Linked DNA regions of Homo sapiens. The protein of the gene in region 1 interacts with the protein of each later gene in a pairwise test. Each region holds a gene or a part of one and is shown in the gene's direction. Other genes may lie near its edges.

Region 1 (3,879 bases):
CACGGTCTCGGTTCACTGTGCCTCCTGGGTTTGTGCGACTCTCCTGCCTCAGCCTCTTGAGTAGCTGGGACTACAGGAATGCACCACCATGCCTGGGTAATTTTTGTATTTGTAGTAGAGATGGGGTTTTTCCATTTTGGCCAGGCTGGTCTCAAACTCCTGACCTCAGGTGATCCGCCCACCTTGGCCTCCCAAATTGCTGGGATTACAGGCATGAGCCAGCGCACCTGGCCTTTGTTGTTTTGAAGTATATGAGTTTAGAATTATTTATCTTTTTAAAATATTCTAGCGATGAGTCTCCTTATCTATAATAATAATTTTTGCCTTAAAGTTTATTTGTCTGGTATCAATAGAGTAATGTCAATTTATTTGGTTAATTTTGCCTGTTAAATATTTTTCTATCTGTCTACTTTGTTTTTCTATATGTTAGGTATATCTCTTACACCTAATCTATGTCTAGATTTAAAAATATGTATAATTTCAGAGTCACTCTTAAATGGTCAATTTGGTATTTTTTGTTTATTGTGATAACTGATATTTGGGTTCATTTCTATCATCTTATTTTTTGATTTAAAAAATTTTATTATGTATTTTCTACTTCTTCCCTTTTAGGAGTTGATCACATTTTTATGTTTTCTTTTTCTTCTTTTGCTAGTTTAAAAGTCATACATTCTGTTTCAATTCCCTTTTATCTTTTGAGACAGAGTCTCGCTGTGTCACCCAGGCTGGAGTGCAGTGGTGTGATCTTGGCTCACTGCAGCCTCTGCCTCCCAGGTTCAAGTGATTCTCCTGCCTCACCTTCCTAAACAGCTAGGATTACAGGCATTTGCCACCATGCCCAGCTAATTTTTGTATTATTAGTAGAGATGGGGTTTCACCATGCTGCCCAGGTTGGTCTTGAACTCCTGGCCTCAAGTGATCCGTCCCCTCCCGCCCCACCCGCCGAAACCACCTTTGGCCTCCTAAAGTTCTGGGATTACAAGTGTGAGCCACCATGTTTGGCCATGTTTCAATTCCTTTAATGACGTTTATGTTTTGTAACGTGTTCTTGATTAATTTGAGAATTTAAGCTTCTATCTTCCCAAAAAAGAATCTTAGAAATTCTAACCAAAATCATTCCTCTCTGATTTTGCATGTTATTGTTTGTTATTTTGGTTCCACCTTGTTTCTATATCACTAAAACTTAATTCTTGGGCCGGATGTGGTGGCTTATGCCTGTAATCCCAGCACTTTCAGAGGCCAAGGCAGGAGGATCACTTGAGCCCAGGAATTCGAGACCAGCCTGGGCAACATGGTGAGACCCTGTCTTTACAAAAAATACAAAAATTAGTCAGATGTGGTGGTGCACACTTGTAGTCCCAGCTATCCAGGAGGCTGAGGTGGGAGGATCTCTTGAGCCTGGGAGGTTGAGGCTGCAGTGAGCTGTGATCATGACTGTACCACCATACTTCAGCCTGGGTGACAGAGACCTTGTCTCTTAAAAAAAAAAAAAAAAAAGTAAATCCAAAGAACAAGCATATAAATCAACTTTGCTAGTAATTAAAACATACAAAGTAAAGCGAGATGGTTTAGTTAGATTAGCAAACATTAAAAATGATTTTTAATGCCCAATGGGTTCTGAGAAAACAGTCAAACTATTGAGGACTGGGTAACATAGTAAGACCCTAGTTCTACAAAAAAATTTAAAAGTTAGCTGGGCATGGTGGCATATTCCTGTAGTCCCAGCTACTCAGGAGGCTGAGGCAGGAGGATTGCTTGAGTCCAGGAGATGAAGGCTGCAGTGAGCTATGATTGCATCATTACACTCCAGCTTGGGCAACAGAGCAGGACTCTGTCTCAAAAATACAATTAAAATAGTGTAGATACTACAATCTAATTTTGTGTATAAAGGCTGGGTGCAGTGGCTCACGCCTGTAATCCCAGCACTTTGGGAGGCCAAGATGGGCAGATCACTTGAGAATCAGGAATTTGAGAGCAGCCTGGCCAACATGGTGAAATCACATCTCTACTAAAAATATAAAAATTAGCCAGGCATGGTGGCGGGCTCCTGTAATCCCAGCTACTTGGGAGGCTAAGGCAGGAGAATCGCTTGAACCCGGGAGGCTGAAGTTGCAGTGAGCCAAGAATGTGCCACTGAACTGCAGCCTGGGTGACAGAGTGAGACTCCGTCTCAAAAATAAATAAATAATTTTGTGTATAAAACGTGGAAAAATATGGTGGCAGGCACCCATAGTCCTAGCTACTCGGGAGGCTGAGGCAGGAGAATGGCGTGAACCCGGTAGGCGGAGCTTGCAGTGAGCCGAGATCACACCACTGCACTCCAGTCTAGGCCACAGAGCAAGGCTCCGTCTCAAAAAAAAAAAAAAAAGAAAAAAGAAAAATAAAAGCATTAAAAAGACTGAAAGAGTTTATGCCAAAATTTATTCTCTTCTATATTTTTCAGATTTTTTCACTTAATTTGTTATTTGAAATATACTTGTTTTGTGTAAGTATAAGGAAATATATACATATGCACACATGCATATAAACATTTTAAGAATGTGTTATAATAAAAGTATATTATTTGATACCTTTGGAAATATCCCCATTTTTCTACCTGAAGAAAATTCCTAATTTCATGGTTTGGAAACAGGTTTATGAGCACTCTTTATAGAGAAACGGTGTTAGTATCTATAGATGACCTGGAAATGGAGACCTAAAAAGTTTCTGAAAAGTTATGTCGTTGGTTTTGCTAGTACGGTCACGACCATAGTAATCTTTGGTACGTGCCCCACAGGCTCCAGAAAATAAAAGTCAAGCTGCTTTTGCTTGACTGCGGTTTTACCCTGGCAATTCGAATGACTCTGCTTTCCTCTTCAGGCTCCCGGAGAGAGAGATGTGGGTACCGCCTTGTGCGGAGACAGAGAAGTGCCGACGAGCAGCTGCACTGTGCCGGCAAGGCCAAGAGAAGTGGCGGCCACGCGCCCCGAGTGCGGGAGCTGCTGCTGGACGCCCTGAGCCCCGAGCAGCTAGTGCTCACCCTCCTGGAGGCTGAGCCGCCCCATGTGCTGATCAGCCGCCCCAGTGCGCCCTTCACCGAGGCCTCCATGATGATGTCCCTGACCAAGTTGGCCGACAAGGAGTTGGTACACATGATCAGCTGGGCCAAGAAGATTCCCGGTAGGGCTTTCTGGCTATCAGTTTTCCATGTACTTGTAGAAAGGCCGGCCGCTAATATTTAAGGGGCAAGAGTACAAAGTAGAGGTCCATGAGCTGTGCCTAGATATTTAACAGGTCCTCAGCTGGATTTGTAACTTTTAAGTGCAATATGTTCCTTCCTTCTGTCTTGGCATACCTACCTTCAACAAGGCCGTGTTCTGATTTAGAATTCTGAGACTCTTCTGAGTTCTGTACCCAACATGGTAGTGCAGAAAGAGTTGTGCGTGGCCCAGCCATTTCTATTCTTGACTGCCTTCTTTTCCCATGGCTAGATGCATCCCATACCACCTTGCACAAACCCTATCCTGTGTGTCCACATCTGCTACAGACACTCACCTGTTGGCCACCTCTCATGCCTAGAGGTGGTCTGGGAGGATGGACCCAGGGAACCTACCTAGGCTCTGGAATTGGGCTTGGGGTCATTTGGGCAAGAATCCTAGAGTCCTGGAACCTGGAACGTGGTTAAAATGATAGACTCCACATTGACCCATTTCTTGGCTGTGGATTCCTCACCTTGAAAGGAGGGGTGGGGTAGAGTACAGTATGACTAGTTTGAAAGTGAAAGGTTTGTCAGATGCTAAATAGAATTTTGTAAATTATTGTTCCAGTAGAGAATCAATATTATGTACATAAATGAATATGTATGGACAAACAGAGTAAATCAGTGGTTGAAGTTACACG
Region 2 (3,879 bases), on another chromosome or scaffold:
AGGGTTTTTGTGCTTCTTAATCTTTTTTGCTTGGAATCGTTTTTCTGTCAGGTATCTGTAAGACTTGCTTCTTTACACTTTTTTAGGCTTCATTCAAATTTCACCTTCTTGGTGAGGTCTAGTTTAAAGCTGTAAATTGTGTCCCCCAACTTTCTGTCGTCTTTCCTGCTTTATTTTCCTCCATTTCAGTTGTCACCTTAAAATATGCTTTATAATTTACTCACTTTGCTTGTCTTTTAACCCCCACTGGAACGTAAGCATGATGAAGTAAGAGATTTATCTTTTCCATTGCTCTCTTCCCATGCCTAGAATAATGCACTTAATGTTTGTATTATTAATAAGTCTCTATTCTGAAGGCCAGAAAATACGTTCTCAGTAACAACATGTTTTTGCACAAGGGTAGAGGAAAACAAATTTATGGCTTTCTATAATTTATATGTATTGGGCTTTTTGTAAAACATGTAAATGTTTACTTCTTCCTATATGTGCTTTCTCTGGCTACTTCCAAAAGTTTACTTAGGTTGGAATCCACTTTATGTCTATACACATTTTCTTTGAGATAGTTAGAAAATTCACATAGATTATAGAAACAAGATTACATCTATAAAAAATGTTATATCTAAATACACCAAGGCAGCATATATGACCTAGACTGACAAATTATATTCTGAGCTCTGCCACTAAATTGCTGAGTGATCCAAAACAAGATCTAACTTCTTTGCTACATATTTTGGCACAGAAATTGCCAGCTGTACAAAAGGGAATTGCTACCTTTCCTCTCCTGTGGGGTGTAATGACAACAACACAGCTCTTTATACTCTGTTGAAAGGATGTTGTCCGTAATTCACAATTGGTGGCAATGCAGTTTTAAGAGAAAATTCAAGGGAAGTAATAAGTGTTTACAATATTAACCTGGATTTGAGATGCATTATTACTTACAACCTGTTTAGGTCTTAGAAGTTCTGAAAACTGTTAATGACTTCAACACTTCCAGTAGGCTATAGGTGGCCCTCAGAATAATCAGACTCTAAATCAGTATTCTGACACTTCAGCATATGTTAGAATTTCATGGAGGGCTTGATAAAGCAGATTGCTGTACCCCACCACCAGAGTTTCTGATTTCAATGGGTCTGGGGAGGGACCTGAAACTATAGATTTCTGACAAGTTTCCAGGAAATGCTGATTTTACTGTTCAGGGACCACACTTTGGAAACCACACAAATAGGAATCTCATGCAAACCCAAGGCACCTATCAAAAAATTTTCAACCAAGTGATTCTGCATGACAAGGGCCAGCAGTGCTAGGGAAGAAACAACATTCTGTTCTTTGGCCCGTCAGCAATGACCATTGCCAGAGCCAAACTGAGAAGAGTGGGCTGTCTGTTCAAGGAAGCTGAGATATATAATCTTAGCAAGCTGAGGGAAAGCAGCATAGCCACAGCCCTCTTTATATGCTAAGAACTATTCTAGAATTGGAGACTTACAAATCTTACCTTGGTAACTGGGACTCAGTCTGTGAAACTCCTGTACATCCCTCCACAGAGCAATGACCCTGACCTCCAGGATTTTTGTCTCAGCTGTAGTATTCTGAGGTTTAGAGTGGCCTTTACTTAAAAACAGCAACAGTTGTTTTTTTTTTAAGTTAACACATAATCTTTAGTAAAATTTGTCGAAAAATACTAACTTTGATTGTGTTTGGTCATTTATCATGAGTTTAGAAAATTGTAAAGTTGTAATTCTCTGTATTTATATGACCAAAAGGACTTCTTGGCAAAATCTTTCCACACTAAGTTCTCACAAATAACTGAGTAAATAGCAATCACAGTGTCAATATAATAACCTTCCTACTATGAATACAAATTATATTTTCTTAACATTACCTATTTATAATTATAACTGATGCTTTTAGGCAAGTATGAATAAGACAATGTCAAGGAAGTGAAATATAAATGAGTCAAATGTGGCAAAGAAAAGGGATAATCAGAATGAGAAGCTGAGTTGTGTTCTGCTTTAAAACTGAACCTTGGCTCTTCAAAGTAACCCTCAAGCCTTTATCCAAAATATATCAGGTAGGGGTCATTAGGAAACCTAATAGCATCTTGTAAGCACTAATAAAGGTTACTGTTCTAAAAGTCATTTTAAAACAACCATAAGCTGGCAAAGACTGACAGAATGAACTTTTTCAGAACTCTGGAATCTAATTGAAAACTTACAACAGCAACCAAGAGACTGCTTAATGAAGAAAAGGGCAGCTGATTTTTGGCATTTAAGGAAATCTCTGTTAGGTAACTGGCTGACCAGTGAGATAGTGGAACAGAGACTTCAGTGACCACACCCAACAAGGAATACTGCCTTTGCAAAAACAGTTTGGAAAAGTCACTAAACAAATGGATGACTGGAGCCCTCAGGAATCAACAACAGCAAACCCTGAGGCAGGGAGAGAATATGATTACCCATTGTAATGTTCAGATGCCCAGTTTTCAACAGAAAGGTATAAGGCATACACAGAAAGAGGAAAGTATGGCCCATTCAAAGGGAGAAAATAAATTGGCAAAAACCTTCCCCGGGAAGCCCAGACATTGGACTTACTACTAGACAACTGTCTTAAATATGCTCAAAGAGCCAGCAGAAATCAGGAAAACGATGGATGAACAAAGTGAGAATATCAATAAATTATATAAAAAAAGAACCAAGTATACATTTTGGAGCTACAAATGATTTTAGGACATGCTAGAGCTAGATATACCAAAAGTTCTTTCATGCTAAAACTTTGGAAAGACTTACTCTCCTTAAGTTCAGATAAATGAAAGACATAAGGAGAGAGGGCATTTGGAGACTCTGTATGCTGGTATGAGAGTTAATAAGCAGGACTGTAAAGCATCTGTTAGACAAGACACCGCAGGAGTTGGGCTCCTGTTGACTTGCCATTTATTGGCTGATTTGTCTTGGGACAGGCGCTGAACATCTCATCCATAGTTTCCTGCTCTGTGAAATAGAGCATCTGTTCTACAGACACATTATGAAGAGCCAGTGAGACTGTACAGAAATGCTGAAAATGTGAGGCATCCACTATGTTCATCCTCCAGAGGAACCAACAGCCTAATGATTAAAGAAAGAGAATGTTTACTTTACTATGCTACCAAGTTATCAATAGAGGCACAGTGCTTGAGTTAAAGAACTCTGCAGACTTCAGCAGCTGTTCAGGTGGTCATTATGCCCAGAGGAGGAATTCTAGCCCCTCTGGAATTCCATCACCCTATCATCAATTAGATTTTTTTTCCCCACAGTCTCCATTTCCCACTTACTATCTCTTTCATCTCACTCCTCCCAATTAAATTTATTTTGCATACTTAGAGTAACTTTAAATGCTTAGTTTTTCAATTATTTCTCCTTTCCCAGGAATTTTTATGATGTTTTTTAATATCACTAGAAGACAATCTAGAAACACCACAAATCCCAGATTGGATCAGCTTGGGCCTTCCTCTGTTGTTTTACTGGCATTAATAGAAAGCAGCTCTAATAGTCAAGTGCAAAGTCAGTTTGTAAATGCTGAACAAATAACAGATAAGACTATTGACTGGCTTCTTGGGAAAACTGTTTGGTCAGGAGAGAGAAAACTGTTGAAAAACTGTTGTACTGATGTCACCGGTGATTGAAGGGGTATCTTTAATTGGCTAATTTGAAAGAAAGTCACAAAAGAAAGGCATGAATAACCAAAATCCTGGGATATTTCTGAAACTCAGTCGAGGTCAGTAGATCTGTCTGGGACTACATTTTCCATCCCAGTTCCTAACAAAGTTTCATTTTCTTTTCTTTATTCTCTGATGTAAGAGTTAACAGTGAAATGACCAAAATCCTGAAAGCCAATGGAGCAACAATA
Region 3 (3,879 bases), on another chromosome or scaffold:
TTGGGTTTTGTTTTGAGAGCCAGGGCCAATTTGAAAATCTTTTTTTTTTTTTAATAGGTTAGTTAGGCCCATTCACATAGGTTGATAGATTGATTTGAACTGTCATTTTGTGAAATAATGTCCCTGTGTTTTTTTTTTTCTCTGCTAAGCATACTTTTGTCTTTCTCAATTTTCTTTTGGTATTTGGGGAAGTTTGTATTTTTGTTCTAGTGGTTACCTTTATTCTTACACCTTTTTAATGCTCTCTTACTATCTGTTTTGACAGTTTTAAATGATATATTTTTTTACTTCTGTCTCTTACCTGTGCAATGATGCATGAGCTTATTCTATTTTCTCTTCTTGCCTCAACCTCCCATTTTTTAATCTGATTCTAGACTTATCTATTTTGCCAAATTTGGAACATATTTCTTCATATTTTTTTCAGCTCCGCCTTTCCTTGTAGGGTCTCTGAAGACACAAATATTAGATCTATTGTTATTGTGCTGGAAGTTCCTGAGAGTTAATTTCTGTTTAATCTTTTTTTTTTTCTGTTATTCAGTTTGGATGATTTCTATTGATGTATCTTTGGGTTCATTTATTTTTTTTTCCCCCTTCTATCATGTCGGGTTTTTTTGCTGAGAATTCCCACTTTAAATTTGTTTCAAATGTGTTCATAATTGTTCACCAGTGCATTTTTATGATAGTTACTTTAAAATCTTATCAAGTCCTTGTCAGATAATTCCAATATGTGTGTCATCTCAATATTGGCATCTGTTGACTGTCTTTTCTCTTTTGAGAATTTCCTGGATCTTGGTATGAAGGGTTATTTTCCATTGTAGCCTACACATATTGGTGTTATGCTTTGAGACCCCTGTTTCTAGGTAAATCTAGTTACTGTTACTGCCAGGGTGGGCAGTAGCCAGACTTTGTTCTCAGACCCAGCATCTGCAGACACCTCCAGCAGGGAGGCCTCCTCACTTCCAGAGTGGGAAATGGGCTGGTAGGTGGGCTCAGCTCTTAGGCCCAGCTTCTGTCCTCTCTTTTACACAGTCTTGAGGCAAGAGGTCCAGACAAAAGCTAGAATTTAATTTTTTCTCCTCTTACAGATAATGGAAATTTTTAGTGTTCTCTGACTCTTAGTAATGCTGAAGGGGTGTGGGTTATATGTGTAGTTCTATTTTATTTATTCATCTATATCCTTTTTTGAAGGGTATGTGAATTCAGGTGCCTGCTATTATTTTAGGGCAAAAAGATGTGATGTCTTCAATTTGGATGACCTAATAGGAAACATCTTGATTTTGCATAAGCTACAACCAGTGCTTATATTCCTCTGTGACGACACCAAGCAATGCCACATACAAGATCTTTGACCTTGAATGAATCACCAGATCGCTAAGCCTGTTTTCTTCTATGTAGTTGCAAAGTTAGGATAGGCCTAGGGCATGGTTTATACTCCAGGTTTATACTTCAGTTGGGGACACATTTCAGGAGATTTTCAAACAGTTTTTTCCCCAGATGAAGTTAAAGTGCCAAGTCATTTCTTTTATTGGTTTACTTTAGTAGCCTGAAAAATTGTATTGCTAAATATGTTGGAAAACCAGTAGAGTAAATAGATGACCTTTCTGTTCTCTTCTGAACTTGAAACAGTATGGTGTGTTGGCCTCATTCTTGTAAATAGTGTTTTTCTGTGGGATTATTAGGTAGCTAATTTGTGAGGGCAGGGAGAATTACTTTTCTGCCTGTTTTTAAATTCATCTGTCTGATACATAAATGCAGAAGTTGGAATAGAAGTTTTCCCAGACTTCTGTGTCTCATTTTCTGTGAAGAATGATCTGAGGTAGGCACTGAAAGAAAGATAAGGTACTTTCTACTTAATAGATTAATCAGCTAAGCAGATATTTTTGCCACTAAGCTAAAACTTGAAATTTGGTTACTTTTTCTGTCACTACTCCTGAGGTGTGTTGAACAAGTAAAGCATTCAAACAAATATGTAAAATGGTTTTTCTTTTGTGTTTCCTGTAGATTCTTGTAGACACTGTTTGGGCTCTGTCATACTTGACAGATGGAGGTAATGAACAGATACAGATGGTTATTGATTCAGGAGTTGTGCCCTTTCTTGTGCCCCTTCTGAGCCATCAGGAAGTCAAAGTTCAAGTAAGTATTTTTAAATTTTTCTTATTTGTATACAGTTGTGTTTGCTATAACCAGTTAACTTGTACAGCTAGGCTTTAATTCTATCTGTAAGTGCTTATCTTCCACATTTCTTCTGCTAGTCCCTGAGCCTGATTTTGTTGATTTCCAAATCTTTATCTCACCCAGTTTCTTTGCTGAGTTCCACACTTGTATAGCCAATTGTTCTTGACCCTTTATACATATCATCTAAGAACTCCTTCAAGCTTTCCGTGGTTAACTAGACAGAAATGAAACGATCATCTCCCACAAACCTGCTCTTCTTCCTTGTCTACCTTCAGTGAACAGCATGGCCTAAGCTAGAAATTTTGATTCCTCCTTGCAATTCCCATTCCATTACAAAATCATTTCAATTCTTCTTATATAGGTTCAAATCTGTCTCTCCTTATCTATCTAGAACAACAGATTTAGTTCAAGACTCTATCTTTCCCCCAAATAATTGCAATAACCTAATTGCATTTCTTCTTTCTCTCTCCCACTCTAATTAGGGGTAGGCACTTATTAGATCTGTTCATCCTGCTTTACCAAAGTGACTTTCTAGGTGGAAGTGTGTGCCCATTCCAGGCGTTTATTAAAATATTATATATATTTTTGAGATGGAGTCTTGTTCTGTCGCCCAAGCTGGAGTATGGTGGCGCGATCTCTGCTCACCGCAGCCTCTGCCTCTCAGGTTCAAGTGATTCTCCTGCCTCAGCCTTCAGAGTAGCTGGGATTACAGGCATGCACCATCACACCAGCTAATTTTTGTATTTCTAGTAGAGATGGAGTTTCACTATGTTGCCCAGGCTGGTCTTAAACTCCTGACCTCAGGTGATCCCCCCCGCCTCGGCCTCCCAAAATGCTGGGATTATAGGCATGAGCCACCATGCCCAGCCTTAAGAAACTGGACTTCTTCTAAAATTTTAATTTCCTTTTATTTTTTGAATCTTTTTCCAACCAATTTTCACACAATTTTTTTTTTTCATAAAGTTTCAGTTTTTCACAAGAGACTATTTAAAATTCAGAATAGCTCTCAGACTGCTTGGTGCTTTGTGAAAGGATGAAATAAGTGTTATTTATGCCTTGCATTTTTACTTTTTCTCAGGATTATGAAAAATATAGAATTAGTCTTATAAGCAAATAAATTTATAGAAAACATTTTATCCCCACCCTAGACAGCAGCCCTCAGAGCAGTTGGCAACATAGTGACTGGCACCGACGAGCAGACCCAGGTTGTTCTCAATTGTGATGTCCTGTCACACTTCCCAAATCTCTTATCACACCCAAAAGAGAAGATAAATAAGGTAAGGCATATAATGTCCTCATTATGCTATTTCTTTCTGTGTCTCATTTTTAACTGTCTCCTTGTTTCTATTGCTACTTGTATGTTTTTCTTAAAAGCCACTGCAGCGAAGATGAGAATTATTTTAAATCACCTCTGCAAATGTTTTTCTTCAACTTTTTTTTTTTTTTTTTTGAGACAGAGTCTGTCTGTTGCCTAGGCTGGAGTGCAGTGGCACGATCTCGGCTCACTGCAACCTCTGCCTCCTGGGTTCAAGCGATTCTCCTGCCTCAGCCTCCCGAGAAGCTGGGACTACAGGTGCCCGCCACCACGCCCAGCTAATTTTTGTATTTTTAGTAGAGATGGGGTTTCACCATATTGGCCAGGCTGGTCTCGAACTCCTGACCTTGTGATCCGCCTGCTTCAGCCCCACAAAGTGCTGAGATTAC
Region 4 (4,307 bases), on another chromosome or scaffold:
TCAGCACTGAGGACTGGACTGGGTCGCCACGCCCAAAGGAAGGATAATTACTCACCTCCCACTCAAGAAGCAGGCGGCAGAACTGTTTTGGAGAGCATGGCTTGGGGCCTGGGACCTATGTTCATGCGGTCCAGACGGAGATCCATGAGAGTTAAGACTCTTTCTAGATATCAGGTAGCACTTCTGATTACAAAACTTTTGCACATGGTCTCCTCTCTGCTTTACAACAGCTCAGGAAAGTAGGCCCAAACATCCACTTTAATAGATGAGGGAGCTCAGAGGGGGTAACCAACCCCTCCAGGTCACACAGCCAGGGAGGGGGTTGAGCCAAGGTTCAAACCACTGCCTCGGTTGTTGCAGATACATCCCTGCAGACACCTTTATTGAAGAGGGACCCTGAAGGCTGAACGGCCAACACAGAAGAGGAGGCACTTGGGAGTAAGGGTGATTTATGGCCCTGGGAGGGCCCAGTGCAGGTAGGATGGGAGCTAAGGTAAGGCTGGGCCATGCCTAGCTGCAAGCAAATTTCCTTAAAAAACAAACAACAAAAAACATTACTTTTTCTAAACCTAAAGTTTGTGGTGGCATTCAAGTCCCATCATAGCCCATCTATCCAGACTCATCTGCCTGGGATCCCCGTCTTGGGACTAGTGGTCACTGGCCTGCTTCCTGGTCAATTAGCTTCCGGGACTAGGGGGAGGTGTGAGGAGCCTAGAGTGCAAAATTTAAGAAGCACTCAGTCTCAGGGGCGTGCAGGTGCAGGGTAGCGACGGCAGGACTCTAAGAGTGAGTCTCTTTCCTCCCCGTTTCCCCGTCCTACTTTCACTCTAAGCATTTAGTTCCCAGGGGACAGAGACGACTTCTTCATTAGAAGACCCCGGGGGGTCCCCAGCCCGGAAGGGCTCACAGTTGGAGCTCAAACATTTGCCACTGTTCAGGCTCATCTTTCTTTCCCCAGTGAAAAATGGTCTAGGTTGGGAAGGGCAGGTTCCTGTCTACTGCGTGATCCAACCGATTCTGGTTCGCCCAATGTCTGGACTTGTCCTTTGCCAAGAATAAGCAGATGAGATGGGCGGATGAACCCCAATGTCCCTGCAAGATTCAGGAAGTCCCAGCCAGAAAGTAAAGGACGTTTAGTTCCATGTATTGTTTTCTTTTTTACATGCGGGGCAACACACCTGGACAGTGTCGATGGCTTGCTCCAAGCCACACGGCCGCATAGGGACAGGGACTGGGCTACATAACAAGTTCTTCGACGCTGTGATCTAATCAAGGAAAACCTGGGACGCAGCTAATAGATGCGCATCGAGTGTATCGACGCTCTAAGTACGAGGGCTGGAACAGTGAGCAGGATCAGTCCATTGCTTTTGCCTACCTGCTGAGCGCTGATTGGTCCCCGTTTAGGAAACGGAAAAAGGGGCGTGCACGCGGGCGCGGCTGCGTGAGAGGCGCGCGGCGGCGCAGTGAACAGTCTCCTTCCACAAAACCATGGCGTCGCTCAAATGTAGCACCGTCGTCTGCGTGATCTGCTTGGAGAAGCCCAAATACCGCTGTCCAGCCTGCCGCGTGCCCTAGTGAGCGGGGAGGTCGCGGGGTCCAGGGGCGCGGGTGTCCGGCCATGGCGGGAGGGCGGGAGGCCGGGAGGCCGGGCGGGAGCGGGCGGGCTGCTGGAGGGGCCGGGGACCCTCGGGGCTGACGCGGCCTGTGGCCTCTGTTGTTACAGCTGCTCGGTAGTCTGCTTCCGGAAGCACAAAGGTGAGCCCCGTCCCCGCCAGCCCTCGTACCACTGCGCACGGGGCAGCCCCCACGTCCAGCCTCCGTCTTGGGGGCGTGGACCCTTGGGCTGCGCTTCCTTTCCCGCCTCGGGTCTCCGCGGGTTCTGCAGGAACCTTGCTTCCTCTGACTTGGTCCCTGGTGTCTCTGTGTGTCGGACAGTTCCCTCTGTTGTCCCTGCCTGTAATCGCTCTCAGGGTTTTGGTCAGTAGCCTTTCTTCTACCCCGCTTCTCCTTCTGCGTGTTACTCTTTTTTGCTTAGAAATAGTTTCCGATTGCTTTTCCCACCGAGGTCTACCCTAGCAGTTTCTTCCTCAGTATTCTGATGTAGCCCCTCACCATTTGGCTGAAACTGCGCTAACTTTAACAGTATTTTCACTCGTGTAAATAATGTCTTGTTAGAAACAAAGAGGTAAGTCCATGTACAATACAAGGAGACGTCCTTGATTTGTTAAGAGAAAAAAAGAACCAAGTAAGTTCTGTGTATGATGTGAACACACTTTTGTACAGTTAAAAAGAAGTGACCTGGCCGGGCGCGGTGGCTCACGCCTGTGGTCCCGGCACTTTGAGAGGCCAAGGCGGGTGGATCACCTGAGCCCAGGAGTTCGAGACCAGCCTGGCCAACATGGTGAAACTCCGTCTCTACTAAAAATACAAAAATTAGGCGGGCGAGGTGCGCGCCTGTAATCCCAGCTACTCAGGAGGCTGAGGCAGGAGAATCGCTTGAACCCGGGAGGCGGAGGTTGTAGTGAGCCGAAATCGCACCACTGCACTCCAGCCTGGGCTACAGAGCCAGACTCAGTCTGGAAAAAAAAAGAAAAAAAAAAGTTTGATGTAGGTGGGGCGCGGTGGGTCACGCCTGTAATCCCAGCACTTTGGGAGGCCGAGGCGGGCGGATCATTTGAGCTCAGGAGTTTGAGACCAGCCTGGGCAACATAGCGAAACCCCGTCTCTATAAACAAACAAAGCCAGGCGTGGTGGCCTGTGCCAGTGGTCCCAGCTACTCAGGAAGCAGAGGTGGGAAGATCGCTTGAGCCTGGGAGGAGGAGGTTGCAGTGAGCCAGGATCGTACCACTGCACTCCAGCCTGGGAGACAGCAAGACTGTCTCAAAAAAAAAAAAAAAAAAAGCTTGATGTAGATTCTTTCAGCTTATTTCCACTCTTGTACCAATATATAGAACTTTTTTTTTTAGCTTTTAGAATCTCAGCAATGAGACTGTACCCAACATCCTCATTTGAGTTTATATATTGGGCACTTTTTAAAACCTAGTGCATACAGGCTGGGCGCAGTGGCTCATGCCTGTAATCCCAGCACTTTGGGATGCCAAGGTGGGTGGATCACCTGAGGTCAGGAGTTCGAGACCAGCCTGGCCAACATTATGAAACCACATCTCTACTAAAAATACAAAAATAAGCTGGGTGTGGAGGTGCGCGCCTGTAATCCCAGCTACTTAGGAGGCTGAGGCAGGATAATTGCTTGAACCATGGAGACGCAGGTTGCAGTGAGCCAAGACTGCACCACTGCACTCCAGCCTGGGCAACAGAGTGAGACTCCATCTAAAAAAAAATTAAAAAAATTAAAAATAAAGACTAGTGCATACAAGTTCTAGCTCACTGACTTAAAGGACTGTATGTTATTTCATTATATAGTTGGTACGACCATTATTTATATAAAGCCTCCTATTGGTTGATTTTTCTTTTTAATATTTGTTTTTAATTGACACATAATTGCATACAATTTGAGTTACAGTGTGATACTTCGATACCTGTATACAATGTTTAAGGATCAAATTAGGGTAATTAGCATATTCGCCCCAAATAATCATTTCTTCATGTTGGGAACACTCGCAATCCTCTCTTGTAGCTATTTGAAAGTATAAATTGCTGCCAACATGGTCACACTAAGGTACTGTGTAACACTAGAACTTATTCCTCCCATCTAGCTGTAATTTTGTATCCATTAAGCAACTTCTCCCTAGCCCCCTACACTCTACTCTTCCTAGCCTCCAGTTACCACTATTCTGCTCTCTACTTCTGTGAAATCAACTTGCTTAGCATCCACATGTTAACAAGAACATCTTATGGTGCCTGGCTTGTTTCACTTAACATTATGTTCTTTGGGCTCATCCATGTTCCTGCAAGTGACAGGATTTCATGGTTTTTTATGGCTAATATCCAGTGTATATATGTACCGCATTTCTTTATCCATCTGTTGGTGGATCCTTAGGTTCATTCCTTATCTTGGCTGTTGTGACTAGCAGTAAACGCAGGAGTGCAGGTATCTCTTCGGCAGACTGATTTCATTTCCTTTGGATATATATACAGTAGTGGGATTGCTGGATCATATGGTAGTTCTATTCGTAGTTTTTTTTTAGGAACCTCTATGCTGTTTTCCATAATGACTATACTAATTTACATTCCCAATAACAGTGCAGTGTATAAGAGTTCCCTTTTCTCCACATCCTTGCCAACATGTTTTTTTCTTTTTGATAATAGCCATTCTTACTGTGGTGAGATGATACCTCATTGTGGTC

What was found.
Region 2: the proteins of ESR2 (region 1) and JMJD1C come close enough for resonance energy transfer, tested with the Homo sapiens proteins (one study listed by BioGRID).
Region 3: the proteins of ESR2 (region 1) and KPNA3 interact in binary tests that used the Homo sapiens proteins (3 or more experiments, as listed by UniProt).
Region 4: the proteins of ESR2 (region 1) and ZNHIT3 come close enough for resonance energy transfer, tested with the Homo sapiens proteins (one study listed by BioGRID).

Annotation. Positions count from the first base shown.
Region 1 is NC_000014.9:64,259,729-64,263,607, reverse strand, and holds part of ESR2 (estrogen receptor beta), read left to right. Parts: intron 1-2,859; coding exon 2,860-3,159; intron 3,160-3,879.
Region 2 is NC_000010.11:63,168,940-63,172,818, reverse strand, and holds part of JMJD1C (probable JmjC domain-containing histone demethylation protein 2C), read left to right. Parts: intron 1-3,879. UniProt on the Homo sapiens protein: Probable histone demethylase that specifically demethylates 'Lys-9' of histone H3, thereby playing a central role in histone code. Demethylation of Lys residue generates formaldehyde and succinate.
Region 3 is NC_000013.11:49,709,145-49,713,023, reverse strand, and holds part of KPNA3 (importin subunit alpha-4), read left to right. Parts: intron 1-2,001; coding exon 2,002-2,133; intron 2,134-3,323; coding exon 3,324-3,452; intron 3,453-3,879. UniProt on the Homo sapiens protein: Functions in nuclear protein import as an adapter protein for nuclear receptor KPNB1. Binds specifically and directly to substrates containing either a simple or bipartite NLS motif.
Region 4 is NC_000017.11:36,485,212-36,489,518, forward strand, and holds the start of ZNHIT3 (zinc finger HIT domain-containing protein 3), read left to right. Parts: upstream 1-1,469; 5' UTR 1,470-1,488; coding exon 1,489-1,574; intron 1,575-1,723; coding exon 1,724-1,755; intron 1,756-4,307.